Linked DNA regions of Homo sapiens. The protein of the gene in region 2 binds, or shares a complex with, the protein of the main gene of each other region. Each region holds a gene or a part of one and is shown on either strand. Other genes may lie near its edges. A codon is read from its position in the direction of its gene.

Region 1 (7,763 bases), on a different chromosome or scaffold from region 2:
GACACACTGTCCAAGGGCTCCAGGGTGTCAATCCCCAAATCTAGTGATAAAGAGAGATTCTGCAGATTCCTAAAGGGTAGGGATTGCAACATCTCCCCCATCTAGCACTCTCTGCCAGTTGTATGCATCGGTCTGTTACCCTTATATTGCAGCATTACTTCACCTAAATTGACCTCTTGTGGACTTAAACCCAGAGTCTTGAAGTATCCTAGTTCAAGATCCTTTATAACTTTCTCCAAGATTTGAAAGTGAGGAAGAAAAGTGAAAAAGATGGGTTAAAAGTCTGCTTTTTGCTGGTGCCTGTAGTCCCAGCTACTTGGGAGGCTGAGGCAGGAGAACGGTGTGAACCCGGGAGGCAGAGCTTGCAGTGAGCCCAGATCATGCCACTGCACTCTAGCCTGGGCGACAGAGCAAGACTCCGTCTCAAAAAAAAAAAGTCTGCTTTTCTGCGTGGGACACAGGAGTTTCCCACAAGGATAGCAGAGGGGCAGTGAGATGTAGTCTTTCCCAGCAGAGATGTGGCCGTTCAAATTCTGAAACACCCAAAACAGGGAGATGGAGCTAATAGATTAAATACCTGTCTTACCTGATAGGCGTGGCTGCTTTAGAGTGGGCATGACACTATGCAAAGGGGAACTTGTTGCCCATTGACTTTCATGCTTAGAGAAAACAAAACCAATGCTCATACTATTTTCCTTGCCTCTTAGAACTCCAAGCCACTCTTGCTGTTTTCATCAACTAGGAAAGTTAGATTTCTTCTGAAATTGATTTTGAGAATACAATTTGTTATCTATCAGTAGGCCTGTGCGTGTCTGAAGCTCTAGGCCAGGCATGGCAAACTGTAACTTCCCATGATGTAACCAAGGGAAACAGTGGCTGGCCAAGGCTTCAGAATCCTTCTCAACACAGTGTCATTGCTATCACCTCTATTCATAGCCTTTGCCAGAAGATCAGAGGTGGTGTTAACCACATGACCTATTTTCTATCTGCCCTAAGCAGAAGCCTAATTTACTTTTTGCTCCAACTGCCTCGACTGGCATCCTCATAACTACTTCTAATATTAGAGTGGCCTCTTAGAATAATTTGGTTTTACAATTTGACAACAATTTGGCTACCAAGTATTATACACAAGTAAAGTTATCAGCAGCAACTTAGGAAACTCTCTTAAGTAAATGCTGAAAAATGCATTTAAATGAAAATTCTAGGCTGATTTGTTGTTGTATCTCTCTGGCATGAAACTAATACTTCTTCAAGAAGTCAATATCCAAAAAACATGTGATTTTTTCCCTTCTTGTATATTCTCAATCCTGCTTTGATACAGGAACTAAAAAAAAGCATAATTCTCTTGAATTTTTTTTGTGGCCGCGTTGGTCAAGGCCGTAGTAAGGGACTGAGCTGTGTCTGTGCTCTCTTGTCTGTGAGGCCACACTTCATGGATACACACTGAACTCGGAGTTTGGGTTTCCACAGGTAGAACCCAGTTCTGAGTTTGGTGTCGAGGTTTGTTGCTCTTTGAGCATGCTACTCAGCTCTTGCTGCACTTGGTATTCGTATGATTTGATTTATGTTTAGATTATCTTTATGAGATCCAGTGCATAGAGACTTGTTTTAAAATTCAGAAAGCTAATGCCTCTCTTCCTTACCATGAATCAGTTAGACATCATTCTCTAGTGTCTTAGGATGGCTTGGTACATAGTCCCCAATCATCTTCATACTGCTTTCATGTAGTTTTCGGTTTGACCAGATAAGGAGTTCCTATTTGGCACTTTGTCACTGGTGTGGTACAGAGTCACTGAGTTTATGAAAATGCCATTTTTAAAGGAACTGGATAATATCTGACCAGTAATATTTGCCCCAAACTTAAAACACATCCCTTAGAATCTAGCAGTAGTTCAGAATGGATCCTGGTACCCAGAGGGAATACAACTATAATATGAACATCAAATGTATGTTTAACTTTAGAAAATATCATCTCCATGAACTCTGATTATCCAGACAGCCTCCATATTTTACATGTAACCTGTAGAAATGGCTTTACAATAAAAGAAGGAACCAGGTAAAATAAAAAAATCCCAAGTTAAAATTTTTTTCCGAATTATTTGACATCCACTCCTTCTACAAATTGTTTTTGAAAGTAATCACATGAATGCCATTTTGATCTACCAATGCTCACCTTCTCCTTTCCTGATTTGTTTTACTTATACAACTCCACAAAAAAGCAAGTCACTATCAGAAATATCACTGAGGAAATTAACATGAATTTAACTGCAGACAGGTTTTAAAAACACATTGAGGTCATTTATTTTACCTCCTGAGCACACCAGGCACACTGAGGTCCAATAAGCAGGCAGTCTTCACAGGTTTCTGCACCTCCCAGGGCACAGCCACCTAGGTTTAGACCCAGCAAGATGCAGGGATTAAGTACACTTTCAGTCATTCCATTTATGAGACTGATGGCTCTTACATTACTTGAACAAAACAACATCAAAGTTTAGTTTAGTATCCAAAATCAGTCCTCGAAATGTTAGCAATTCACATAAAAGTTTGTATTTTACATCTATCACATGTAAAATATGTGTATGTATATTAAAAATTATGTATGTCTTATAAGCCAAAATTATCATGCTCTTTTTTCTTAAAATGTGAAAGTTCACAAATATAGGATTATCCTATTTATTATTCTTAGCCAATGTGTGCCACTTTAATTTTTAAAAATTACTTGCAACCATTAAAAAATGCTTCTTTCTTAAACAAGTTATTTCTGTTTTTGAAATAAATCCTCTTTCTCTTTCAAGATTATTACTCCTAAGTGGAAGATCTTGTGGTAGAATAAAATAGAAAAGTTTCAAAAATGGTTATCATACTGGCACTAAGTTCCATTGGGCAGTAATGTTATTTAATTCTCCTCATTAAAATGCCTGTGCAACCTTTGTATTTATTTACCTTAAGCCTAGAGCATTCACTGTGGGAACTGCCCGGTGTTTGTCTGTAATTTGTTAAAGTGTTCACTCAGTCACAAAAGAGCAATGGAACAGATCAAATAAAACATGACTTCAGATCTAGTTTCTGAACCAAATGACAGGTTTGTCAAGCATACCACGAAAGTAATATATCAGAGAACGCAGGTCTTACCTTGTACGTGATCATTCCTTCCTAGAAATAGAAAGAACAGGCAAAGCAGTTCAATCCCCATTCGTTTCAGTTCTTGCTGTGCAGACCGATTAAAAAATGAATTACCTTCAGCGTTACAAGACCAACGCTGAATATCGTTAAAGTCTTTCTTTCTTGAAGTATAACATTTTAAATACTACTTACACTGCTTTGAAAAGAAACTTGAGATATAAGTTAGAAAGTTTTCATTAAGACTGAAATGAAAACAGAGGCTACCTGGACAGGTAAAGCAGAAAAGCTGTGTTTAAAAGCAACTTCAACATGATTTACTTCCTTGTTCTCCTTATAAGGAAGGCAGGTGTACAATCACCAAGAAGGTGGGGAAATTCATTCAGTAGAAATTTTGGTGTAAGTTCTATGAGTCTCTCTGCATCCTAGAGAAAGTTAATATCTTTAGTGAAATATTGATCAATGAAAAGTCACAACAGCAATAGAAATATAGTCATTTTAAAAATAATTTTAATTTAATGTAAAGAATAAAGATTAAATAAAGCATATAGGCTATATATGAGGAAAGTAAAAAATGAGCTTAATGAAAATGCCTGAGATTTTAGTGTTTCATTGCTAAATCCTTTGCAAAAAATTGAAACGAACCCTGAAAAAGAAAAATTATTATCTTACAGTAAATGAGAAGGAAGGCTAGGGAAAGCAAAGCACTGTTTCCTTATTTTTTCAAATTAGATGAAATATATTTTTCCATAAGTATAAAATTCTTATTTTAAAATTATATTGGAAATAATCATAATATATAAAAATCAAAGGAGATCAAAATAAGAATGTCTCAAAAGACACTGATGACAACAATGATGAAAACAGAAATGATGGTGCCCAAGATTCTGAATCCCTCAGGCTAGGGACCAAGTTCTCTATGCAATGTGCTGTTCCAACCTCTAGCTCATGATTTGGCACATAGGAGATATTTATTTGTTGAGTGAAAGAGTGACAATTCAAAATATATATGATCTATGGCTAAATCCATGAGGTTTTTTGTATTTTTCCCCCAGGGTGTTCTTCAGGAAGGTGTTTTGAGATTTGTAGAGTCTGTGAACAGATAAGAATCGAATTCTCACTTCGTCACTCTAGAAACTGCTGACCTTAGAGAGACTTTTCTGTGGCCAGGCTTATGTCTGAGGAGATTATCTTTTCAAGGAGCATTCCTGGGTAAGCATGTGAAACCTGTAAACAGAGGGAAACGGACTATGGTCAATAATAATTTAATTCTACATTTAAAAATAACTAAAAGACTATAAATGGGTTGTTTGTAACACAAAGGAGAAATGCTTGAGGGGATGGATACCCCACTTTCCATGAGGTGTTTATTACACATTGCATGCCTGTACCAAAACATCTCATGTATCCCATAAATATATACACCGACTATATACCCACAAAAATAAAAACTAAAATAAAATAATTAAAAAAAAAAAACCAAAGAAAGAGAGAAACTAATTATAGACTACCTAGGCTTTTCTCAGAAGCCTATGTTATGTTCAATTTTGAACTCCATCATATCCAAGAAGCTGGAAAAACATGGCAAGAATTTTGCGGTAACAATCCAGAATTATTGAAGAATTGGAAGATATGCATTTTGAGAGAAAATTTATATAAAATTAGTTGATTTAACTTGAAGAAGAAAGATCGAGCCACAAATTGTTTGTGTCTCTGTTATTGTCATTTTAAAAATCCAGTATTAACTATTATTCATTCATTATTCATTCATTCAACAAGTACTTCTTGGGCATTTACTTTCTGTCAAATATTATTTTTGAAGCAGAGGCTACATCAGTGAACACAACCAAGTTTTTGATCCATGCAGCATATATTCTAGGCTGGAGGGCAGTGCAGGGAGATAGACTTCTAAAATCAGGCAGTGCCCAGGGCTATGAATCATAAGTCTGGGTAAAAGGAAAGAGGGGCAAGGGAGTGTGTGATTTTCTTTAGAATAGTCAGGGAGGGTTTCCCTGACCAACTGGCATCTGAGAGAGCCCTAGATGACTTTGACAACACAGCTAACTATGAAGGCCTGAGACAGCCCAATGGCAGGTGTTTTCAAGGGCAAGTGGAATACAAGAAGGGAGAGAGAGAGGGTAATCAGATTTGAGGGCAGAGGTCAGATCATATGTAGTCTTGACCTTGAATTTTATTCTATACCTTGTGTATCACTGGAAAGTTGAAAGTAGAGAAATAATACTATTTAATTTACATTTTAGAAGAACCACACTGGCTGCTGAGGAAGTGAAAATGTATGCGGCAAGATTGGAAGGTGAATGGGGCAAGAGAGGAATGCATGTCTCTGTCAAGAACAGAGATAATCGTGGCTGGGACTAGGATGTTTGTGGTGCAGGAGGAGGGGGTGATCAGATTCAAGATCTATTTTGAAACTGGACTGTGCTGATAGATTGGATGTGAACATGAAAGAAAGAGGTTTCTGTCTGGCATAGATACATTGTACTGGCTGAGTGATACATTTTACTGAGAGGGATTACATTGAGGAAGAATCAGGTTTCATGTGGAGGATGAGGATCAAGAACATGGTAAGTTTGAGATGGCTAGAAGATAACCAAGTGAAGATGCCACATAGGCAGGTTTGATATCTAGGTCTGGAAATGTGGGCAATGTCAAAGAGCAAACTGTAAATTTGGGATTATCAGCATGGGTTTAAAGATATGAGGCTGATGGTGTTCAGAGATATGTGGCTGAATGAGATCCCTCCAGGAAGCGAATGTATATAGGGAAGAGCTCTGAGGACTGAGCCCTGGGGCCTCTAGATATCTGTAGATCAAGAGGAGAAGGATTTAGTAAAGGAAGCTTCTATCTAAAGAACACTTCATCTTGCTAAAGAGGAACCTGTCTTTGTTGGAAGACAAATTCAAGTGTCTCTCACATTTCTGCACATCTTACAAGCAGAGGACCTGGCTGCCTTTTTTCTAGACTCTCTTTTCCAGGATGTTTATAAAGTGAACGGCCTTTGAAAATACAGACAGTGTCCCTCTTTAGGGAAAAGGAAAAATTGCTTACAGCTTTGGAAGATAGAGACAGTGTCAACCTGCAGAACAAAGAGTAGGCCTGTTTACTGCCCATTATAAAAGGTTCAGTTTCCCTAAACTCAAAGTTCTTCTCTTATAACACATCTTACTACATGTGCAGGAGTCACCTCTTTCTTTTGTGTCATCTTGTGGGAAATGGTATTGGGGAACTGTGAAAGAATGTGCTGACACTCTGACCACTGCAATTGCTGTGAATTAAAAAGTTCTTAAAAAAAAAAAATAATTAAAAAGTTCTTTTTCTGTGATGCAGGCATCGCATGTCTCCATCAGTACCCACAAATCCATGACAAGCTAACTTGTCAGCTTGCAAGTCAGGTAAAAGCCCAGGCCCTTCATAGTTCTTGACAATTTCCCACACAAAATCCACCTTTGTCTGGAGACTGAACATGCAACTTTCAAACCTCACTTTGGAAGAAAAGATCTTACATCCTACAAAACTGCCTTGGACTGACAAGTGCTGCCCTGGGCTCCAGAGGTTTCCCCAGGTCTTGAGTTGCCTGTCTGCCCATAGACCTCCCTGGCAGCCGCTAGCAGGCACTCTAGAGGAGCTGGATCGGGGTGGCTGCCCAGCTCTGGATATGCCAATCCCTGGAAACTCTCCATGGTTCTAGCTGCCACCAACAATCTCTCCTTCCTGAGAACACAGTTAGACTACCTCTCCTGGCCTGTTTTGCAGCTAAGAAAATCCCAACAACCAGCTCTTGCCAACAGAATACGAGTGGAAGTGGTACATACCCCTTCTAGATCATCCTCATGTCCCTCTGACAACCAGATGCAGGCAGCAACAAGGTCCTAGAACTCTAAAACCACAATTTGACCATGTATTTAAATGGACTTGTGCCATCCCACATAAAGACTTCCATCTCAGTCCTAGAATCATAATCACACTGATTGATTTATTCTCTGTCCCCCATGGCTGCCCCTCCAGTGCACACCCTCCCTAATTTTCAGGCCTTCACACAAACCATTTGTTCTTCCTGCAGGCCTTGGGTTGCCTCTCATGCCTCTCACTTGGCTAATTCAGCTTGCCCTCCAGGTCTCAGTGTAAACATTAGTGTCTGCAGGAAACACTTTTTGGTTTCTCTAGGCCTCCCCTCCTGTGGACATTCCCCAGAATAGCCATTTTTGCTCTGCTTGTAATTGTCAAAATAGTTGCCTTTACTCAACAAATATTTATTCAATTCTTGCTATGTATCAGACAGCGACTGTGTCTCAGGAATCTTTCTATTCCTAGCAAGTAACACAATGCCTGGCACTTTGTAAGTAGTCAATTAATGTTTATATTGAGAATATGGGTGAATTTTAAGTCTTCATTGTCTAGTATTTCACCAGTTACAAAGCAGGTACTTCATGGATATTGAGTAAACAGATGAGTAAATGAAAGAATGGTTTAGGAAGGTAAATAATACAATTAGGAAAGGGAAAATGTGTTCCCTGCTTGGGTTGTGCCGAAAGCTGAGAAAAAGCTTAAAATGCAACGTAAAGAAAAGGCAGGGGGGAATTTGAGACAATATAAAGTATAATAATGTTATGAAAGAATATCTA
Region 2 (7,513 bases):
ACCCTTCCTCTCCCTCCTCTCTGTCTTCCTCCCTATCTGTCTTCCCCAGCCAAGGCTCTGCCTTTCCTTTGGGGTTTGCTGAGTAACCTCCGGGCCAAGAATAGGGCTTACTGGGGCTGGGTGGGGAGGGAGACTGGGGAGGAGGAGGAGGATCGAAGGGGGCCGTAGGGGAGGGGTTTCCTCTGCCTTTCTCACCAGTCTCTTTTCACACCCCCACTATGGGAGGCTGGAAGCAGTTGCCCCAGTTGATCCAGCAGTTCATGGCCTGTTCCCTCATCCCCATCCCCAAACTTTTCCTAAACTAGAAAATACCTTGGCTGGGCGCGGTGGCTCACGCCTGTAATCCCAGCACTTTGGGAGGCCAAGGTGGGTGGACCACCTGAGGTCAGGAGTTGGAGACCAGCCTGGCCAACATGGTGAAACCCGGTCTCTACTAAAAATACAAAAATTAGCTGGGCGGGGTGGCGGGCGGCGCCTGTAATCCCAGCTACTTGGGAGGCTGAGGCAGGAGAATCGCTTGAACCTGGGAGGCAGAGGTTGCTATGAGCCAAGATCGCGCCACTGCACTCCAGCCTGGGCGACAGAAACTCCATCTCAAAAAAAAAAAAAAAAAAAGAAAAGAAAACACCTTAATTCCTTTTCTCCCCACTACAGCCATTCCTACCCAGAATGAACTTCACTTTCCCTAACCAGCTGGGGAAGGGAGTTAAGGGTGGAAAACTAATAATAAAAATAAGTAGAAGAATCACTTAGGGGTTAAGAGCACAGTCTCTAGCTGGGTGGGTGTGGTGGCTCATGCCTGTGATCTCAACATATTGGGAGGCTGAGGCGTGAGGATCCCTTGAGCCCAGGAGTTCCAGCCTGCCGTGAGCCATGGTTGTGCTACTGCACTTCCGTCTGGGGGACAGAGTGAGACCCTGTCTCTTGGGGGAAGAAAAAAAAAAAGCACAGTCTCTGGAATGAGACAGCTTGAGTTTGAATCCCAGTCTGCAGCTATGTGACCTTGGGGCAAATTACTTAATCTCGGTGCCTCAGTTTCTCATCTATTAAACGGGTATAATAATAGTATAAGGTTGTGAGGTTTAAATGTCTTCATCTTTGTAAAGTGCTTTAGATAGCATCTGGTAAATAGCGCTGTTTTGTGGTTTTTTGTTGTTGTTGTTTTTGAGACAGAGTCTTACTCTGTCACCCAGGCTGGAGTGCAGTGGCGCAATCTCGGCACACTATAACCTCTGCCTCTCAGGTTCAAGCGATTCTCATGCCTCAACCTCCCAAGTAGCTGGGATTAGAGCCGTCCGGCACCATGCCTGGCCAATTTTTGTATTTTTAGTAGAAACGGGGTTTCACCATGTTGGCCAGGCTGGTCTCGAACTCCCGACCTCAAGTAATCAATCCACCTCGGCCTCCCAAAGTGCTGGGATTACAGGCGTGAGCCACTGCGCCCAGCCAGCACTCTTAGACGTATACATGATTGAGTGACCAGTGTATGCAGAATTGGTGCCACATGGCTTGACCTGGGTCATCTAATTTCCCACTATAATACTGGAATGGGTTCTAGAGTCACTCTGTCTTGTCTTACACCTGGCTCAGAGAGAGGAATTCACTTGCCCAAGGTTACACAGCGCTTAAATTAGGAGAGTCTGTGTGGGAATGCAGGGAGCTTAATGTTATTGCTGTTTTTCAAAGAATAACAGGAAACTGACATTCAGAAAGAGGGTGTTAACTGCCCATGGTCACACAGCCAAGAGGCAGCAGAGGCACTATCTGAGTCCAAAGCCTGTGCCTTTGATCCTTACTCTGCATTTTAGGGGCTCTTGCATTTGGGGCAAGGAAGGCCAGAGCAAACAGAGTGGTTCCCCTTGGTGCCAGCCTTAGTCGACTTGAGAGATGATGCTACATGAGAGAGGAATGTGGTTAGGACCTATTTTACAGAGGAGGAAACAAACCTAGGGGGAGAAACCACTTCCTCAAGGTCACACAGCTAAAAAGTATCACAGTCAGGGCTGGGCGTGGTGGCTCACACCTGTAATCCCAGCACTTTGGGAGGCCGAGGCGGGTGGATCACGAGGTCAGGAGATCGAGACCATCCTGGCCAACATGGTGAAACCCCATCTCTACTAAAAATACAAAAATTAGCTGGGCATGGTGGCATGAGCCTTTAGTCCCAGCTGCTCGGGAGGCTGAGGCAGGAGAATTGCTTGAACCCTGGAGGCGGAGGTTGCAGTGAGCAGAGATTGCGCCACTGCACTCCAAGCCTGGGTGACAGAGCGAGTCTCCGTCTCAAAAAAAAAAAAAAATTCATTTAAATAAATAAATAAATAAATAAATAAATAAATAAATAAATAAAAGGTATCAGAGACTGACTCCACCCCAGAGCTGTCAGCTCCAAAACTCCTAGAGTTGGGAGCACCAGCTCCCCTCACCTCTGCCAAACCCCTGATCGCCTCCCTTCATTTCTCCCTGCTAGAAATCTATGACAAGTTCAAGCAGAGTACACACAGCATATATATGTTCTTCAACACATCAGAGCTCCGAGAAGCGGTACCTGAACCCGTGTTGCTCTCCCGGGCAGAGCTGCGTCTGCTGAGGCTCAAGTTAAAAGTGGAGCAGCACGTGGAGCTGTACCAGGTGAGGACATGAGCCAGAAGGAAGGTCAGGGCATGGGCTGGAGAGGGTGAGCTGTGACCAAGGGGGTGGCTGTGGGTCGGCTGGTTACAAGGTCCACCTAGATGGTCCCTGAAGGATAGAAGAACACAAACCATACAATCCTAGAACGCTTTTTTTTTTTTTTTGAGACAGTGTCTCACTCTGTTGCCAAGCTGGAGTGCAGTGGTATGACCTCAGCTCACTGCAATCTCCGCCTCCTGGGTTCCAGTGATTCTCCTGCCTCAGCCTCCCAAGTAGCTGGGATTACAGGTGTGCGCCACCACGCCCAGCTAATTTTTGTATTTTTGGTAGAGATGGGGTTTTACCATGTTGGCCAGGATGGTCTCGATCTCCTGACCTCGTGATCCACCTGCCTCGGTCTCCCAAAGTGCTCAGATTACAGGCGTGAGCCACTGCGCCTGGCCTCTTTTTTTTTTTTTTTTTTTTTTGAGATGGAGTCTTGCTCTGTCGCCCAGGCTGGAGTACAATGGGGTGATCTCGGCTCACTGCAACCTCCGCCTCCTGGGTTCAAGTGATTCTCCTGCCTCAGCCACCCGAGTAGCTGGGATTACAGGCATGTGCCAACACGCTGGGCTAATTTTTGTATTTTTAGTAGAGACAGAGTTTTATCATGTTGGCCAGGCTTGTCTCAAACTCCTGCCCTCAAGTGATTCTCCTACCTGAGCCTCCCAGAGTGCTGGGATTACAGGTGTGAGCCACTGCACCCGGAACCTAGAGCACTTTTAAATGTTCAGACTCTTTGCATCCTAGGATGTTAAACACTTAGAAGGCTGGAATCTTAGGAGTTGGACTCTTTAAGGACACAGGATTCTTGAAAGTTGGAATCTCTGAAAAGGTTGGGGGCTCTAGAATCATTCTGTCCAATATGACAGCCACTAGTCACATTTAGCTTGATTAAAATTTAAATTGTTTAAAATTAAATTAAAAATTTAGGGCCAGGCATAGTGGCTCACACCTCTAATCCCAGAACTTTGGGAAGCCGAGGCAGGCAGATTGCTTGAGCCCAGGAGTCCGAGACCAGTCTGGGCAACATGTTGAAACTTCGTCTCTACAAAAAATACTAAAATTAGCCTGTTATGGTGATGCGTGCCTCTAGTCCCAGCTACTCAGTAGTCTGAGGTGGGAGGATTGATTGAGCCCAGGAGGTCGAGGCTGTAGTGAACTGTGATTGCACCACTGCATTCCAGCCTGGGTGATGGAGCGAGACCGTCTCAAAAATATATATATATAGGCCAGGCGTGGTGGCTCATGCCTGCAATCCCAGCACTTTGGGAGGCCAGGGTGGGTGGATCACTTGAGGTCAGGAGTTCAAGACCAGCCTGGCCAACATGACGAAACTCCATCTCTACTAAAAATACAAAAATTAGCCAGGTGTGGTGGCAGGCACCTGTAATCCCAGCTACTTGGGAGGCTGAGGTGGGAGAATCGCTTGACCCCAGGAGGTGGAGACTGCAGTGAGCGGAGATCATACCACTGCACTCCAGCCTGGGCAACAGAGCGAGACTCTGTCTCAAAAAAATAAAAATGAAAAAGAAATCCTCATTCTCACTGGCCATATTTCTAGTACTCTATAGTCACATGTGGTTAGCAGCTACTATTTTGGATGTTGCAGATAAAGCACATTTCCAGAAAGTTCTTTAGGACAGCACTGCTCTAGAAGATAGGGAGCTTCCAAGAGGACTGGGGCATCTGGAAGGGCTGGAGGCTCTAGCAGTTTCTATGAGCTAGAATCCATATCAGAGGGAATGTTAACTCATAGGATGGTAGATTTCAGACTTTCACAGTGAGAGAACTTTGTCCTATGTTAGCTTGGCTTCTTGGAGTCTGGGGAATTCAGCTTTATTCTGCAGTCCCTGGAGTGGACTATCCAGCCCCAGAAAATTCTTCTTTTTTTTGTGTGTGTGTGTGATGGAGTTTTGCTCCTGTTGCCCAGGCTGGAGTGCAATGGCACCATCTTGGCTCACCACAACCTTTGCTTCCTGGGTTCAAGCGATTCTCCTGCCTCAGCCACCCGAGCAGCTGGGATTACAGGCATGCACCACCACACCTAGCTAATTTTGTATTTTTAGTAGAGACGGTGTTTCTCCATATTGGTCAGGCTGGTCTCGAACTTCTGACCTCTGGTGATCCACCCTCCTCGGCCTCCCAAAGTGCTGGGATTACAAGCGTGAGCGACTGTGCCTGGCCCAGAAAATTATTCTACACAGATGTTGGGTACCTGCAGCATCTAGGTGCGGCATGGCAGACTCTTGGGTTTATAGAACATTAGTCTTCTAAAGCTTCTCAGGCTCTAGAAGTGGAAATCTTGGGATATTATCAAACATTTGAATCACAAAATGACTTTTTTTTTTTTTGAGACAGAGTCTCACTCTGTCACCCTGGCTAGAGTGCAGTGGTGCAATCTCGGCTCACTGCAACCTCTGTGTCTTGGGTTCAAGTGATTCTCCTGCCTCAGCCTCCTGAGTAGCTGGGATTACAGGCGTGTGCCACCACGCCTGGCTAATTTTTGTATTTTTAGTAGAGACGAGGTTTCACTTTGTTGGCCAGGCTGGTCTTGAACTCCTGACCTCAGGAGATCCACCCGCCTTGGCCTCCCAAAGTGCTGGGATAACAGGCGTGAGCCACCGTGCCCAGCCGGAATCATTAGAAATGACTTCTAAGTTACTGAGAATTCAGGGTGTCAAATTTGCAGAACCGTATGCTCAGTAAACCCCAGAATGTTTGCAGCAGAATTTTATTTTATTTATTATTATTATTTTGAGACGAAGTCTCGTCCTGTCGCCCAGGCTGGAGTGCAGTGGCGTGATCTTGGCTCACTGCAGTCTGTGTCTCCCGGGCTCAAGCAATTCTCCTGCCTCAGCCTCCCAAATAGTGGCGACTACAGGCGTGTGCCACCATGCCTGGCTAATTTTTGTATTTTTAGTAGAGATGGGGTTTCACTATGTTGGCCAGGCTGGTCTTGAACTCCTGACCTCAAGTGATCCACCCACCTTGGGCTCCCAAAGTGCTGGGATTACAGGCGTGAGCCACTGCGCCCGGCCCAGAATGTTAGCAGCAGAATTTTAGCATTGTGGGCTGTCCACGCTGAGTGGGGCTTAGCATTTCACCAATGAGGAAACAGGCCTCGAGAAGGCAAGAAAACACCTTCGGCTGAGCTGTGTGAAGGTGACTTGACCGCAGCCTGAGCTTTTTCTCCACCCCTCCTCTCATGGGTACTGTTGGGGAGGATGGGTGCCACAGGACCACACAGGTGGCTGTCTGAGAGGGTAGTGCCTGGGAACTTTCTGGAAGCCTGTTTGGGGAAGCAGATGGGGTGAAGGATTCAGTTAGTGTATGTGGGGTCGTGACACCATCTACCCACTGTCTCTCTCCTGCCTTCATCATCCTCTAGAAATACAGCAACAATTCCTGGCGATACCTCAGCAACCGGCTGCTGGCACCCAGCGACTCGCCAGAGTGGTTATCTTTTGATGTCACCGGAGTTGTGCGGCAGTGGTTGAGCCGTGGAGGTGAGGATTACTTGTGTGTCCCACCCCTGTTTCTCCCTGGGGTCCACCCCATTGTTTGTCCTGGGGTCACTTTGCCTAGGACCCCTCTCCGCCCCATACTGGTGTGAAAGTGCTGAGACCTGGCTCCCCTCTGTGGCATGGAAACCTGAGTGATTGGCTAATCTGTTTCCTGAGCACCTCTCTGCCCTGCCCTGTGATGGGTGATGCCAAGGACACAGCAATGACCAAAACAGCCCCATCCTTGCCCTCACAGAGCTCATATAGTCCATTGGCTAGGTAGCTGGGGAACAGACCTGTAAGGCAGTGATGACCCAGAGTGGGTGGGACTGGGATGGGGAGCCCAAAGGAGGTACCTGACCCAGCCCAGAATCAGGGAGGGCTTCCTGGAGGAGGGGCACCATAGCTGATGTTGAAGGGATGAGTAGAATGGTCAGGAAAAGGAGAGGTGTAAGAGTATTCTGGGGCTGGGCATGGTGGCTTATGCCTATAATCCCAGCACTTTTGAAGGCCAAGGAGGATGGATCACTGGAGCTCAGGAGTTTTGAGAGCAGCCTGGGCAACATGGCGAAACCCGGTCTCTACACAAAAATACAAAAATTAGCCATGCATGCTGTTACGTGCCTGTAGTTCCAGCTGCTTGGGAGACTGAGGTGGGAGAATCACCTGAGCCTGGGAGGTCGAGGCTGCAGTGAGTCATAATCACACTACTGCAATCCAGCCTACATGAAAGAGTGAGATCCCATCTCAAAAAAAAAAAAAAAAAAAAGATTCCAGGCAAAGGGAACAGCCTGTGCAAAGGCCTGGAGGCCAGGGAGAGCCTAACTAACTCATTTGATCTGTCCAGGAGATGATTGTCTCTGTCTGGTTTCTGGCAGGGCCCATGGTGCCCCTATCTCTCTCCCTCACCTCCCTCTCATTTATGCTTTTATTCAATAATTGCCCACAGGTTCCTGCTGTGTGCCTGGCCATGTGCTGGGTGGTGTGGGGGACATAGTGATAACCAAGACAGCCCTCAGTTCTGCCCTCATGGGGCCCACAGTCACTTCTGGACACCTAAGAGATCTTGTCAAGGCCCCACCAGGCAGGAATGACCTAGAATGATCAAGAATGGGATGGGGAGGCACCAGCAGGGAGGACAAGGCTGGGACAGGGAGGCATGCAGGATGGGGGAACGCCCTAAGTGCTGTTGGGAGCCCAGAGAAGGCACCTGGACCCATCTGGGGAGTCTAGGAGGGCTTGCTGGGTGAGGGTGATTGTGTGGAGACTCACAGGATAAATAGTAGTTTGGCCACATGAAAAAAAAGGGATTAGGGGGCCTGGCATGGTGGCTCACGCCT
Region 3 (7,513 bases), on a different chromosome or scaffold from region 2:
TGCACATGGCCGCAGAGATAGGGTGTAGAGCCAGCATTTGTATTTCAAAAAGATTTTTTAATTAAATCAGACCTATTGTTGACTAAACTAACATTTACACTACCACGCTGGTAAAATTAAAAGACTTATCCATTCCCAGTGTTGGAGAAGGTACACGGAAATCCATATGCTTACATCCTTTTCAGGAGGAGAATAGTTTAGTAGTGCTTATTCAAATTTAAAATACACATATTTCTAATCTAGAAATTTCACTTCTGGCAATCTGCCTTGCAGAAATATTAGCACAAATGCATGAGATATTTTTACAAAGATATTCAATGTAGCATTAAGTGGAAAAACTGAAGACAATCCATCAACAGGGACATGATAAGATCCATCGTGGGAGATAATATGAAATTCGAGACTAAATTAAAAGATGTACAGTATATCTATGTGTTCTATCTTGTTTAGAAGGAATTGTAAAAGTGGTTGGGTATAAAAAAGTGTTGCAAAATAATATTTATAGTATGATCAGATAGTTGTACTGAAAGATGGATGAGTGGATGGAAGGATGGACAGATGGATGAAAGGAGGGAAAGAGAAAGGAAGACAGGGAGAGATTGGGAGAGAGGATGGAGTGGGAGATAATATGAATGAATGATAGAGACGTGTGTGCATCTAATACATTGTCAATACAGATGATCTGTTGCATTGGGAGTGAGGGGAGGACGAAAATGTACTTTCATTTTTAATTTTCACACACTGTTGGATTGTTTGAAATTTTTGATGACGAGCATATACTACTTTTGTAATTAAAAACCACTGAATTCTCTTCTTATTAAAAATTGAGGGAATAGTGTATGCCTTCCTTTCAAGCTGAGTAAACGCTGAACTTCAAAGATGGAGGCTAGTATCTAATCTACTCTTCTCCTGGCTCTAGGGGTAAACTTTGGCTTATTATTTCCTCTCTGTATTGCAATGTTTCTCTCAAATGGGATCGATGACAAGTACCCTAAAGACAAATCCTGGGACTATGTACAAGAAACAACATCAGTTATAAAGAAAGTCCTCCTCCAAGATTAAACAACCCCATCCAAATCTTTAGAACAATAGTTACCAAATTTTAGCTGCACAGAATTACTGGGAGGGCTTGTTAAAATACAGATAGCTGGGGTTCACCCTCTATGTTTCTCATTTAGTGGGGCCTGAGAATCTGCATTTATAACAGGTTCCCAGGTGATACTGATGCTGGCTGCTCAAGAGGCCGCACTTTGAGAAACACTGCTCTAGGTGAAAGAAACTATTTGTCAAAGACAAATAATAATGTTTGCCCCAGTCAACCATATTTGATGAGAACCAGAACAAACCCTGCTACTCCCCAAGCCCCTCTTTCCACCAGCTGAATGAGCTCCTAATCCACTGTATGCAATCCACCACAGGAGGAATGTGCTCTATGACACTGCAGACCAAGGATACAAAAAATTGGCACAGATCTCAGGTCCCACACCCTTAAGAGAAGAAAACTCACCTTCTGAGAAGATGATGTTGTCATTGCACTCATCAGAGCTACAGGAACACATGAAGAAAGTCTCACCAGGCTTTTTTTTTTCCTTCATAATGCACTTTGGAGAAGCAGCATCTTCCAGAATAAAGTCATGGTAGGGGAGCTTGGGGTCATGGCAAACTGTCTCTAGTGTTATGTTCTCGTCATTCTTTCTCCTAGAGTGAAGAGATTCATTGGAAGCGAGGGGAGAGGGAGAGAGAGAAAGAGAATAAATGAATAATATGGCCTCCAGACAGAAAGGCAATCTGGAATACTTTTCCTTCATGAAGTTGTTCCTAACAACGGCAGCTGGTTCCTGTTCTCCAGCATTCGCAGGCTGTCCTATAGTCTCCTATGCTTTTCTACTCTTTTCTGTTTTTCCTTTGTTTATTCTTGGAACCCATTTGTGATTATAAACATCACCTGGAGCAGACAGCGTTCCACGGGGCAGTCCTGGTGGAGAACTTTACATATTTAAGTCTTAATTAAATCATTAAAGGGGAAGACATGGAAAAAAAGAACATTCCTAGGTACTCAGGATAATTTTAAATCTTCCATCCTGAATGTAATGCAAACCTCACATCACACCCCTAGTTTAAGTGGCAAAATCTGTCCTGTCTAGCTATACTGTTTTCAAAGAGCATGCCTGGGGAAATAGTCACAGTTCCTCTTTTTTTTGTTTGCTGGGCCCCAGAGCATTGCGTGTAAAGGGTATACTCCTTGTCAACAGCTGGTTCTGCTGAGAAAAACGGGAAGAAACATCGCAGATAAAGAACTGCAGTCTTTCCCAAATTACAGAAAGGAGCAATTCAGAAAAAACAAACAAACAAAAAAAACAAATAAATAAAAGAAATGGAAAGGGATGTCAGGGTGTTCTTCATTTACAGTTCAATGAAATATTTTATGCTGTCATAAACTAACTACTTTGACAGTATCACTTCATAGCACATATTTGAAGACTAATTTAGCCCAGGGCTCAGAGAATTTCTCACATAGCATTTTCCTTGGGCCCTAGGAAATGCTCAATTGGCCGTCAGTGTACATTAGATTTTTAAACAACATGATTAATGCCCACTATTATAATTGAACAAAAGAACATTTTGGCTCTCTTGGAAAAGGGTATCACCTCTCTATCTACCTCCCTCTGCTCCCTCATGAACATACTATCTTGGATGACTGTCCAACAAGGCTAGTCTGACATCCACCCTTTCACCTCTGTCCTTTTTAGATGCAAAATACCTGTTGTCTTGAATCGCATTCTCTCTGTCTAGAGAGGGAGCGGAAGGAAGGGCTAATCTGGTCCAGTCAGTTTTGCTAGAGTAATCTTCTATGAAGATTCTGAGTGCACACATGAGCCAATGCATGCATGTACTCACTCACCAATTTTCCCCTAATCCTCCCTGCCCCATGCACAAAGGCTCACTGCTCACAGCAAGGAAAACGGAAGGCAGGCTAGAAGCAAGAAGCAGCTAAGACACAGCTTGCACCTATAAAAGATGCGGGGCCATCCCCATGAGAGAAAGAGCAACTTTGACCAATACCACTTTTTTAGTGCTTAAGTCAAGGACATTAAAGGACAATATGTTGACAAAGGGATAAGGGCAAGGGTATGGGTTAGGACAATCCAGGCAGGAATGGTGCCAGTGTCAACATCCATGCAGCCCAGAGTTGACTCCAGTGGAGGTACATGTGTCTGCTTGTGAAGGGGCTCAAGGGTTCTTAAACTAGAATTCCGAAAGACACAAGAGGAGCAAGGCTTTGCTAAGTTGGTCCCTGCTGTGACAGGAAGAGTGACAAGCAGAATAATTGGTTGAGGGTGGCTATCAGGACACCAAATGAAACTAAATGAAAGTTGGCATGATCATACAACAAATGATGTATAATTTGGAAATCTACCCATCTTTAACCCCAAAGCTACTTGGCAGTCTTCAAATCAGCTGTAGTCATGGAACAAGAACACCTTCCTCCCTGCCCCCACAGTTTTGTGTGTGTGTGTGTGTGTGTGTGTGTGTGTGTGTGTGTGTGTAGGTTGTTTTTGGTTTGGGTAATAAAACGAAGGTATGCTGTGCCCACAGAAAGGCATGGTCTCTTTTCCTTGTGACGCTTATAGAGGCCTAAGAAGGAACTGTGAGCCATGAAAGAAAGCTGCTCTATAATTATTGGGCAGCTCTTCCAGAGCCTCCGGTTTTCTACCTCTTAGCTACTGAGAGAACTAACATCACAGAGAGAAAACAACTGTAATACTTGAGACCTGGTAAAGCCCTTAACTGCTTTCTCCACTCACTCCTGTAACAGCCAGGCACAGCTAACTTTTCAAACTCTTTTTGGATATAGCTGAGCATAGGAAAGGTAAATACAAAGAAGTAAATACGGACTTCTTTTTTTGTCCTGCAACATTTGCTCTGAGCCACTGAAGAGGTTGTCAATTTCCACTGAAAGAAGAACCAACATGATAAAATTAATTTTGGAGGCTGGGCACGGTGGCTCATGCCTGTAATCTAAGCACTTTCAGAGGCCGAGGCAGGCGGATCACAAGGTCAGGAGTTCGAGACCAGCCTGGCCAACACAGTGAAACCCCATCTCTACTAAAAATACAAAAAATTAGCCACGTGATGGTGGTGTGCACCTGTAATCACAGCTACTCAGGAAGCTGAAGCAGGAGAATCGCACGAACCCGGGAGGCAGAGGTTGCAGTGAGCCCAGATCACGCCATTGCACTCCAGCCTGGGCAACAGTGGGAGACTCCCTCTCAATTTAAAAATAATAATAATAATAATTTTGGTTATAAAATATTTCTATCCTTGGAGGCAGCTTAAGCATTTTATATGGAATGGGCACACAACTGACATTAGTTAAATGAATGAATGAATGAATGAATGAATGAAAAAACACTAAAACTGATTAAAAAAACAACAACACTGAAATCTACAATCATAGTAGAGCCTTTCAGTTTCCACACTGGCTATTTTTACAATAGCCTCCTGTCTTAGTTTAGGTTTCCTGGAAACAGACCTTGAGGCTGTGAGAGTTCTGTGCAGGAGGTTTTTGGAGATGCATCTGTAAGCGACTAAAGGCAACAGTATTGCACAGAAGGAAAAAGCTAAACTATAATGCAGGTTGCAGCAAAGGCCTCAGTGAATGCCTTGGAAACTCTGAAAATGGGATGTCCTTCAAAGATGTACCACATTATGGCAAAATAACCAGGAATTTGTTTCTCTGCATCAACTAGCCATGGGATGATGGCTACCCATGAAAAGTGTCCAACGTGAATGAGGCAGCTCCCATCACTGGAGGGAAGGCTCAGCAGTGATCCTTCAACAGCCAACACTCCCAGGGAATGAGTGCCTTGGTCATGAAGGAGGATCAAGGAGGGCACTATAGCGTACCCTATACTTCCCCTTCTCATTATCAACACCCCTGGCTTCACGGGAGAATTTTCTTTGGCCAGCACAGGTCAAAATAATGTTCATTGTATTTACCCTTTATAGCTGGGACACAGAAAAGACAGGGAGGCCTCCTCTCTTCGACATGCTCACATTTTTTTGAGGCTAGCAAAGCCTCTATTCTAGAGAGACTTGATTCACATTTAATGATTTGGGCTTGTATTACTGGTCAGGAAAACAAAAATCTTAATTAAAAGAGCCTTTTTGGGTTGCAAAAGCAAGTGCTCACACCACCGTAGATATTTAAGAAACCACGGAAGGAAGCTTTGAGGCCATCTAGTCTGGTGTCTCAATCTTTCCTGCATTCTATTTGACATATGGTCATCCAGCCTCTCCTGAACTTCACTTGGTGCTTACAGAAAAGGAAGCCTGTTCTGCTGTTGGGAAACCATGATTGTGAAAATGTCTAAACTTATGCTGAGCACAAGTCTGCCTGCCTTGCAAATGTTATGGATCCTCCCTCTACCCTTCAGAGTTATGCAGAATATGTTTATTATATTTTCTACCTGAGAGCCTTTCAATTTCATCAGCAGAACCCACGATCTCTCTTCACTGTACTAACCATGTCTAATTGCCCAGGCCATTCCTCAGACAGCATGATTTCTAGGCCTCTAACCACACTGGTCCCTCTCCTCTGAACACATTCTTTGTCCAAATCCTTTCTTTGAAAGCGTTACCTAGAAGTGGACATGGACAGGTATCATATCATATTGGCAAGTATGTCATGACAAGTCTTTGCTGTTAACATTCCTTCAGTTCTTAAGAAACCAGTTCATCCCGTGGTATGTACAGAAGTTTGCAAGGTTTCCAGATCTATCATCAAGGCTAGCTTTACATGGTCTAGGGGTCTCAAATGACTCATTCCCAAAAAAGGGGGAGAGATATTTGGGTTTATATTCTTGTTTGTCAACTAGCCAGGAGACACATAAGTTACTTTTTTTAAAATGGCCAATAAATTAAAAACATCAGAATAAGTCTGCAAAATGTCATATCTCATTAATGAATTTATGTACTTTTGTAAAATTACAACTCTTCTAAAGATCAAGGTTATTTCTTGTTCATGCTCACAATCTATAACCATGAATTAATCAAATGATTCATGAGTATCCACTGTGTATGTATAATTATTATTTGAGATGTATGTATGAGTTGGAGGGAATGAGAGAGAGAGAGAGAGAGAGAGGAGAAAATGTGATCCGATAAAAATATATAGTTCTGGTCGGGCATGGTGGCTCATGCCTGTAATTCCAGCACTTTGGGAGGCAGAGGCGAGTGGATCACCTGAGGTCGGGAGTTCGAGACCAGCCTGGCCAACATGGTGAAACCCCGTCTCTACTAAAAATACAAAACTTAGCCAGGTGTGGTAGTGGGCACCTGTAATCCCAGCTACTCGAAAGGCTGAGACAAGAGAAACGCTTGAACCTGGGAGGTGGAGGTTGCGGTGAGCCAAGATTGTGCCATGGCACTCTAGCCTGAATGACAGAGCAAGACTCCATCTCAAAAAAAAAAAAGAAATATGTAGTTCTGAGCTGAGAGAAAGAAGTCATATCTATCCCAATGGTTATATGAATAATATAACCAGAATTTCTGACTAAAAAAACAGGTTGTTTTTGTGGTTCTCCAAGTAGATTCCCCATTTTTGGCTGGTAGTTTTCTCTTCCAACAGCCAACCTTTCATCACCTCTTCTTCCAGACCTGAGATTGCCTCAAGAGAACAAAGCTCCTGGTCTCACTATGGGGTGCTGAGGAGGTGTCGGTTAAATGACTACTAAGCGGCAAATCCCTCTTCTTGATACAAGAAAGAGTTTCCAGATTTATTATATTAAAGATCATTTTATGATCTTTACATTTATCATGATCATTTTATAATCATGATACGTTTATATACCCACATAAACGTACACATACATGCAGAGAACACCCCTAGAAACTACATTTAATAATCGAAAGAGAGATGGTCTAAAGGAAAGGGAAATGGAACAGGTGTTTACATTTAGGAGACAGAGATACACTGACTGTGTGTACTATGAGAATACATTATGTAAAAAGGGGAAAAGAAAGAATAACTTCTTAAAAGGCTTGCTTACCATACAGCCACACAGACTTCCTGTGGCTTCTCACAGATGGAGGTGATGCTGCAGTTGCTCATGCAGGATTTCTGGTTGTCACAGGTGGAAAATCTCACATCACAAAATTTACACAGTTGTGGAAACTTGACTGCACCGTTGTTGTCAGTGACTATCATGTCGTTATTAACTGAGGAGAGAGAAAGATATATTAAATGATTATCCAACTGCCAGGCAGCCTGCCAATGAATTCCTGAAGATGTTATGCAATTTCAAATGAACTTGATGTCATGAGAATGAATCTGAAGAAAGGCAAAATAATTCCTTCACATCAGATTAGAATTATCTGGTGTATGCAATTTGTAATAAAATCCATTGTACCGTGGTGAGGGGTGGTGAGGGGTTGGGGTGGTTGAGTAGCCATTTGCTTTTGTCAATGGTTGTCATAAGGTCCACTTTCTACAAAAATCTTATCATTCAAT
Region 4 (7,859 bases), on a different chromosome or scaffold from region 2:
TGAATTTTTACTTCGAACCTGACTCATTTCTGGAGTGATTTTTTGAGGGGCCGCCTTAACATTTTGCTTAGTACTTTGTCCTTCCCTTTAATAAATATTGATTCATTAATTTTCACAACAAAACTATGAACTATGCAGATAATTCAATAATAATTTTCTATAAAGAGAAAAATTAGGCATAAAATAATTCTACAGCTTCCCCAAGGTATGTGGACACCAAAACTGGAAAAAGCAACAGGAGTGGACGTCACAACCACTGCTCCTCACAAATCCTTCTCCCCTCAGAAGAAAGGCGCTCTTGAATTGACAAATACTTTTTCATTATGTGGCTTTTTTTCTTTTAAAAGTTTATGGTAATACCAAATAACAATAAATCCAACTGGTAATATTGGAAATGGCATCCCAAGTACCTTGGATTCCAATGCTTGTTAAATTTAAAGTGCCCTTCTAGAAAATTCAGCAAAATTTTACATAAATTTTTGTTAAATCTGAAAAGCTCAGTAAGTAAAAACCTGTGTTTATATACGTTTTGTTTAAAAAGAAAAAAGAAAAAAATTCAAGGTTGGTTTCCATTTTTTAAGTTACCTATACCTAGAGCTCTGTAGTCTATCGGTAACAAAGTTGCTGATGAATATTTCAAAATATTATATGCAACCAAACCCAAGTTCAATTTTACTTTATCATTAAAGGTCTATGAGTGAAGTCATGTAAACCTGTGAGGTCATAACACATTCATTGATTATAATGACTGGCCAAAGATTAGTCACCCTGGTTTGTAATCAGCAGTAGCAAATATCATGAAGAGTTCAACATCACTGCATTTTTCATGGAAAAAAAAAAAACACTTAAAGTTTATCAGCCTCTCATTTATCTTACACTAAACTCAGAGCACTGCTGAAGAATTAACAGTAACATTGTAAAACACTGCCATCAACTTTATTTTGTTGTTGTTATTGTTTGTTGTTTTTGATTTTGTTTTTGTTTCTGAGACAGTCTCTCTCTATCGCCCAGGCCACAGTGTGGTGGCACAATCTCCATTCACTGCAACCTCAACTTTCCAAGCAATCCTCTCATCTCAGCCTCCCGCAGAGCGAGGATTACAGGTGTGCACCACCATGCCCGGTTAATTTTTGTATTTTTTTGTAGTGACAGGGTTTCACCATGTTGCCCAGGTTGGTCTCAAATTCCTGAGCTCAGACAATCTGCCCATCTTGGCCTCCCAAGGTGCTGGGATTACAGGTGTGAGCCACTGTGCCTGGCCTGAAGTATTTAAATGCTAATTTTTGACTGAAGACATATATTTTCAAAATCATTAGAATTTCTCTACAAATTATATCTCACATTGAACCCTTGGGAGCAACTAAAATGTTCTGTCTCATGAAGGTATACACTTGAAAGTATCTGGAAACAAAAATGTTTAAAGATAACGTTTGGTATTCACCCCTGTGGTTAAAAACAATAAATAAAAAGATAATGCTGACTAAAATGACTAAATGGAATGTGAAATTGGTAAATGTTGCCTAAATAATGATTATTTTTATCATGTTGGAAAATCTGTGCTCCAGGTCTCACAGAAAGCACTGTAACTGCTAACAACAAATAAAACTAAGCTTGCTACATAAAATAATGTCTCCACTAACAAAGTTTCCATTAACTGCATCTAATCTATGTATTGCTGCAAAGGTTGTTACCAAAATGAATGATACTCAGTAACATTCAGAAAAACACTAAGACTAAATTCTGCTGAGTGTCCTAACAGTCATAGAAAACCATTGAGACCACCCTCAAATTAGGCATGTGTGTAGTAGAAGATGGTCCTATCCACGTACTAACCGTCAAAATTTTCCTCCACTTCACCCCGAAGGGATATCTTATACAGAAAATATGGAAACAAAAATATGTTGTTACAAGGTCTAAGCGTTTAGAAGGCACCCTAAGAACAGTTTCTCTCTTGAAAACAAGATTTAAACATCATTAAAAAAACAGTCAACATTCATTAAAACAGTACTCCTAACGCTAACATGGGGGTGGGGTGGTGAGAATGATGTCAGCATTCAGTAAAGTCGGAGACAATTTCTAACACAATAATGGCAATAACTGTTATAAATCCTGACGGCCCTTGCAACGCGGAACGTTGGCAACTTGAAAACATAACTGAATTATTAAATACTGCAGTATTCAAATGACCTGCAGCGAGTGAAAACTCAGCAAACACCCTTGTTCCTTCTGAACAATGACCTAAATAGTGAATCACTATAAAAAGAACAGATGACACATTCAATTCATCTGTTCAACCTCAAATGTGCAAATGTCTGACAGTCCCAGAGATAAGACACAATGAATTCAATAGGACAGTATGGTCATTTTAAGTCATCAGAATGTCTGCAAAAGGAGTAAGGAGAAACAGAATCAGACAGAGGCGGAAAGAGTGGGGGAGGGCTTGTTTAGGGAGACTGAAAAGGACGGGCGTTAAGCCTGTAAAGCAGAAAAAGGCTACCAAGAAGCCTAACTGGTAGAGGAGAAAAAGAAGTTCGGGGATGATATTGACCAAATCCTCGACACTGGCACAGGAGGCGGGGAGTCCGGCAAGACCAGCCTTTGTTGATTTCCCACTTTCCCCGATTTTTAAGCACAGGTCTGCTTCAAAGCTCTCCCGCTGCCCCTAACCAATTTTAAGAGGTGAGAAGCGGGGTGTAACTGGGTGATGGGTACCAAAGGGAGTTCATTTCCCCAAATATTTCCTCCACCCAGGATATAAACCACTCTGAGAGGTAGGATGGGTGAGACAGACAGACGCCGGGATCTCTCGGAAATCAATCCCAATGGAGAAACGCTGGGTGGGTGCGCGCGGTGGGGGAGGGGGCCGGCTCCAGTTCCAAGTGCGGCCACTTACGAAGACGCGCTGGGCACGAAGAAATCCACGGCGAAGCCGAAGTAACTTCCCTCGGGGCCAGAGTACTCGGCAGGACTGTCCACGTCTAGGTTGAAGGCGCGGCACAGAGGTAGCAGGAGTCCCGAGAGAAGAAGCGGGAGGCCGCGGGGACCGAGGCGCAGCCGTCGCCGCGGCGGAAAAGCCATCGCCGAAGTGCGCGCGGGACGCCAAGCCGGGAGCGGTAGCCACCTCCCCCCGCCCCAGCGAGGCGCCCAGTGCCCGCGGCCCGCCGCCTGCGCGCGCCCAAACTTGCCGGCCGCTCTCTTCTCGGCTAGCCCGGGACAGCTCCGGGGCAGGCAAGAGGGCTGAGCTTCGGAGCGACCGCCAGGGACGAGGGGCGCAGAGCGCGCGGGGCGGGGACAGCAGCGCAGACGGTCCTTTGCTTCCCTCCGGCTCCGCCGCTCCACGCAGCGTCTGAGGCTGGGGACTGCCGGGGTGAGCGCCGCACCTCAGGCCTGAGAGCCGCGGCGGCACTGGGAGGAGACCTGGAAGGAGGAGGAGCCGGCCCGGGAGGCTGCTGTGGAGCTGGAGGAGGAAGTGGGGGAGGAGAGGCGCCCTTCTACAGGGGAGAGCTCAGCGTACTTCCGTGAGTGCAGTCGCCGCCTGTCCCGAGACCTGGGCGTCTGTGCAGGGGCCCCCAGCTCCTGAGCCTGGGTCAGCGGCAGCGCTCCTGGACGAAGGCCTCAGGCTGAGCACCTGAGGAGGCGTGGGGGCGGGGGCGGGGAGATACGGTCCAGCGTCCCAATCTACCCGCGTCCACGGGAGTAGCAAGGGCACCCACGTTCCCTTGTCCCGCCGGGAACTTCCGTGCGACTGTTGTTTAAAAATGAGGAAAGCTTTTTATCAGTTTCTCGTGTTTCTGCTGCTTAGCCTGGCAGGCTCTCACGAACGAAACCCTGTTAATTAATGGTCGTTAATTACACTCCATTCCACAAACACTGAACTTAATTACGGATTTCCAGAAAGCCAGCATAGCCTCTTGCAAGTGAGGTATGTAAAGCTTAACTTAGTAGTCAAAGAAAGGATTCGCAGGGCAAAGAATTGGCAGTGATCGTTTTAAATCAAGTCAGAATAATCGAAGCCTTATTCCCAGTTTGTTAGCTGCGGTTGTATGATTTAGAAACACTGATTTGTTGATTTAGGATGTTTGGATAGACATAATTTCAGAGCTGGAAGAAGGACCGCACACCGGTGAAATAAGGCCCCGCGTGCTTGTTTGCCACTGGTGTGTTTCATCAAGCCTTGACAACACTGGACTGAGAGAGAGGGCCTTGAGGACAGGAACCTTGACCTTTTTCTTAGTGTTCTTATTTCTAGCACCTTGCCAAGCAGATAGTAGTCGATCAATAAAATGTCCAATCAGTGAATGAATAGCAGACGAAATGAGCAAAGTGCCCAGAGAAGTGACTCTTCCATATTTCAAGTGTTTCATGTGCTACAGAATCTGTTGAACAAGGTGAAGTTTAAGTGCATTGTGTGGACTTACAACTTACAAGTAAGTACTGGAACAGTAATTTCTGTTTTCCCAAAGTAACTATTAAAACTCAATCATAATATACATTAATAACTATCAAATAATCCTGTGAAAGGATATGTATATAAATGAAAGTGAAATGCCTAATTCGAATTTGTAATATTTATTGGACCAGGTCCAGGTGCTCATGCTGGCAATCTCAGCACTTTGGGAGACTGAGGCAGGAGGATTGCTTGAGACCGGGAGTTCCAGGGGAACATAGGGAGACCTCATCTCTACAAAAATTTAAAAATTAGCTGGGAGTGTGGTGCATGCCTGTAGTCCCAGCTATGCCGGAGGCTAAGGCAGGTAGATAGATCGCTTAGGCTCAGGAGTTCCAGGTTATGATAAGTCATGAGCCTGCCACTGCACTCCAGCCTGAGTGACAGAACAAGACCCTGTGTTTAAAAAAAAAAAAGGCCGGGCGAGGTGGCTCATGCCTGTAGTCCTAGCACTTTGGGAGGCTGAGGCCGGCAAATTGCCTGAGCTCGGGAGTTCGAGACCAGCCTGGGCAACACAGTGAAATCCCGTCTCTACTAAAATACAAAAAATTAGCCGGGCGTGGCGGCATGCGCCTGCAGTCCCAGCTACTCAGGAGGCTGAGGCAGGAGAATTGCTTGAACCCGGAAGGCGGAGGCTGCAGTAAGCTGAGATGGTGCCACTGCACTCCAGCCTGGGCCACAGAGTGAGACTCCATCTCAAAAAAAAAATGCATTAAATATTTCCATTTTTAAATTTGACTAAAAGATATGCAGCAAAACCTTTGGCATGTTTTACAAGGCATGGTCTAGCATCTGCCTGAAAGAAATTACTGATTGAGAGAAGAAATCCTACACAAATCCTTACACATAAATGCAAATACAGCTTATTTCTCACCTTCTTTCCTAATACACCAAAGAGGCTATTGATATGTATGCATAAACCCAAAGGGTCTTTTATATCTTAAAAACATGACAACCAGTCTACCTGGAAATCCATCCAGGTAAGGAAGACAGAAGAGTTTAAACTCTGGCTAGATCCAGTAAGTCTCCCACTCCTCAACTTCTGATCGCAGGACAGGGGTCCGACAGACCAAGGTGGAGTGAAGAAATGTGAGAGGACCAGGGAAAAGAAGAAGCCCACGAAATGACAACACATGTACACCCACCAAAACTTGGGTGAACAACACACCCCCAAATAGGGCTACAACTTACTGAAAGCACTTACTGTTGAGCCATTCTTTATGAGTTTATTTTGAATGAGCAGTCTTGAAAATCAAGGAATTTGTTTTTTTTAAAAAAGCAAATAGTCCAGGCACTGTGGCTCATGCCTGTAATCCCAGCATTTTGGGAGGCCGAGGTGGGTGGATCACCTGAGGTCAGGAGTTCAAGACCAGCCTGGCCAACACAGTGAAACCCCGTCTCTACTAAAAATACAAAAATTGGCCGGGCGCAGTGGCTCACTCACACCTGTAATCCCAGCACTTTGGGAGTCCAAAGTGGGTGGATCACGATGTCAGGAGTTCAAGACCAGCCTGGCCAAGATGGTGAAAGCCTATCTCTACTAAAAATACAAAAATTAGCTGGGTGCAGTGGCAGGCACCTGTAATCCCAGCTACTTGGGAGGCTGAGGCAGGAGAATCACTTGAACCTGGGAAGCAGAGGTTTCAGTGAGCCAAGATCGTGCCACTGCACTTCAGCCTGGATGACAGAATGAGACTCCATCTCAAAAAAGAAAAAACAGTAGCCAGGCATGGTGGTGTGTGCCTGTAATCTCAGCTACTCAGGAGACTGAGGCAGGAGAATTGCTTGAACCCGGAAGGCAGAGGCTACAGTGAGCCGAGATATTGTGGTATTGTGGGCCACTGTGCTCCAGCCTGGGTGACAGAGCGAGACTGTCTAACAACAAAAAAAAGCAAACATACATTTCAATTAGGAAACTATGAAGCAGACTAACCCAGTGGCTTTAGAAACTTGGGGTTATAAATGCAGGCATCTCTTTGTGTGACCATGCTCGAGCAGCCACTCACACAGTGCCTTGCAAATTGTATTGTAGAACATGTCAATTCAGCTAGTGCTGATTCAAAATCCACATTGCACCTGGTACTATGTGCATGGGACAGAGAAAAGAATGTTTTAGTCTACGAAAGAATGGTGGTGCCCCTCCCCTACCCCCATGACACTACTCTTTGAACTACATTATAACAGTTTTCCAACTTAAAAGGAGAACTTCTGTGTATACATTAAGTATTCATTGAATATAATCCTTTTCTTAGAAAATAAAATATTAGATAGTAAAAAGAATTTGTACTTTGAATTTTATCCTCTACTACCCTATACTTTAGTAAAAATCTTGATTCCAGTGGTTTCTGTAAAATAAAGCACCTGGGTTCCATTCCTGGCTTTGCCAACTACTAGTTGTATGACCCTGGGGAAATCAATCCAACCAATCTGTGCCTCAGTTTTCTTATCTATGAAAGGGAAAGGGGAGTAATACTATGTCTATCTCTTAGAATTGAACAGTTCTTGTTGCCATTAATACTTTTAAGACTAATAGTTTAGCATGGTAGCAATAATAAATTTTTTTTTTTGAAACAAAGTGTCACTCTGTCACCAGGCTGGAGTGCAGTGGCGCCATGTCAGCTCACTGCAACCTCCGCGTCCTGGGTTCAAGCAATTCTCCTGCCGTAAATTTTTATGACTATTATTTCACTCTCTTAGTTCCCCTAGTGTCTGTCCAACAGGTCCTTCAATAACCATAATCAAACCAGGGCTTCACGCAGCTCTGTCTCTGCAAACAAAGGAACTTAGTCCATAATTTAAGAGGAATTTCAAATTTTATCTCTCTCAAAGAACCTCAAAGGAGATTCAGTTAATAACCCATGGGAACTTCAGAAATCTGCTTCTTCTACTCTCAATTTCTCTGGAGACTTTAACCCACTAAACCCTGCCCTGGAATTTTTGTTGCTGTTTGCTTGTCTAACTCACTCCTGTCACTCCTCTCTTGGCTGTTTATTAGGGAGACTGACTTGTTCTCTCTTCACCCCCATAACCACTTCCACTCCCAGTGCTGCCCTTTCCTATCTGATCTGTATCAGAAAAGATTCTGGCCAGCACTTCTGCTCTTTGGGTGAATGGGAAAGAAGAGAAGGCAGGCAGTAAACTTGTTACCTTTCTGGGCCATGTTTCCTAAACTACCCCTTCAATGCTAGGATTCCCTAAGTCTCTGTTCTTGAATCACTGCAGTTCTCCTCAGGGTGATCTTATGCATTGTCATGCTCTCAACTCTCATTTCTTAACACTTCCCACCTCACAAAGGAGCTTTAGCCATATTAAATAACTTAACTTTTCTCCAGAGTGCTATCTTTGCTCAAAGGGCTCCATCTTCCTGGGCAACATTAGTTCTGCCTGTAACCATTTTCCACAAGCCTCCATC

Evidence for each region.
Region 1: the proteins of TGFB1 (region 2) and ITGB6 are in contact, whole or in part, in a crystal structure (PDB 5FFO), measured with the Homo sapiens proteins. Residues at the interface, in NP_000651.3 of Homo sapiens: Pro70, Gly71, Pro72, Glu75, Leu158 (codon at 2,584), Asn237, Gly245, Asp246, Leu247, Thr249, Ile250, His251, Met253, Asn254; in NP_000879.2 of Homo sapiens: Ser142, Ala143, Ser144, Asp146, Asp147, Pro196, Cys197, Ser199, Ile200, Pro201, Tyr202, Lys228, Lys231, Ile232, Ser233, Ala234, Asn235, Ile236, Asp237, Thr238, Glu240.
Region 3: the proteins of TGFB1 (region 2) and TGFBR2 are in contact, whole or in part, in a cryo-EM structure (PDB 9FKP), measured with the Homo sapiens proteins. Residues at the interface, in NP_000651.3 of Homo sapiens: Arg303, Lys309, Trp310, His312, Tyr368, Tyr369, Val370, Gly371, Arg372, Lys373; in NP_003233.4 of Homo sapiens: Phe47 (codon at 7,177), Leu50 (codon at 7,168), Phe53 (codon at 7,159), Asp55 (codon at 7,153), Ser72 (codon at 7,102), Ile73 (codon at 7,099), Thr74 (codon at 7,096), Ser75 (codon at 7,093), Ile76 (codon at 7,090), Cys77 (codon at 7,087), Glu78 (codon at 7,084), Val100 (codon at 1,664), Asp141 (codon at 1,541), Glu142 (codon at 1,538).
Region 4: the proteins of TGFB1 (region 2) and ITGAV are in contact, whole or in part, in a crystal structure (PDB 5FFO), measured with the Homo sapiens proteins. Residues at the interface, in NP_000651.3 of Homo sapiens: Gly242, Arg243, Arg244, Gly245; in NP_002201.2 of Homo sapiens: Asp178, Asp180, Phe207, Tyr208, Gln210, Ala245, Asp248.

The regions. Positions count from the first base shown.
Region 1 is NC_000002.12:160,196,871-160,204,633, forward strand, and holds the start of ITGB6 (integrin beta-6 isoform a precursor), read right to left. Parts: upstream 3,403-7,763; 5' UTR 3,194-3,402; coding exon 3,133-3,193; intron 2,389-3,132; coding exon 2,309-2,388; intron 1-2,308. UniProt on the Homo sapiens protein: Integrin alpha-V:beta-6 (ITGAV:ITGB6) is a receptor for fibronectin and cytotactin. It recognizes the sequence R-G-D in its ligands. Internalization of integrin alpha-V/beta-6 via clathrin-mediated endocytosis promotes carcinoma cell invasion.
Region 2 is NC_000019.10:41,343,410-41,350,922, reverse strand, and holds part of TGFB1 (transforming growth factor beta-1 proprotein preproprotein), read left to right. Parts: intron 1-2,467; coding exon 2,468-2,628; intron 2,629-6,058; coding exon 6,059-6,176; intron 6,177-7,513. UniProt on the Homo sapiens protein: Transforming growth factor beta-1 proprotein: Precursor of the Latency-associated peptide (LAP) and Transforming growth factor beta-1 (TGF-beta-1) chains, which constitute the regulatory and active subunit of TGF-beta-1, respectively.
Region 3 is NC_000003.12:30,644,455-30,651,967, reverse strand, and holds part of TGFBR2 (TGF-beta receptor type-2 isoform B precursor), read right to left. Parts: intron 7,222-7,513; coding exon 7,053-7,221; intron 1,699-7,052; coding exon 1,508-1,698; intron 1-1,507. UniProt on the Homo sapiens protein: Transmembrane serine/threonine kinase forming with the TGF-beta type I serine/threonine kinase receptor, TGFBR1, the non-promiscuous receptor for the TGF-beta cytokines TGFB1, TGFB2 and TGFB3.
Region 4 is NC_000002.12:186,585,558-186,593,416, reverse strand, and holds the start of ITGAV (integrin alpha-V isoform 1 preproprotein), read right to left. Parts: upstream 3,362-7,859; 5' UTR 3,079-3,361; coding exon 2,894-3,078; intron 1-2,893.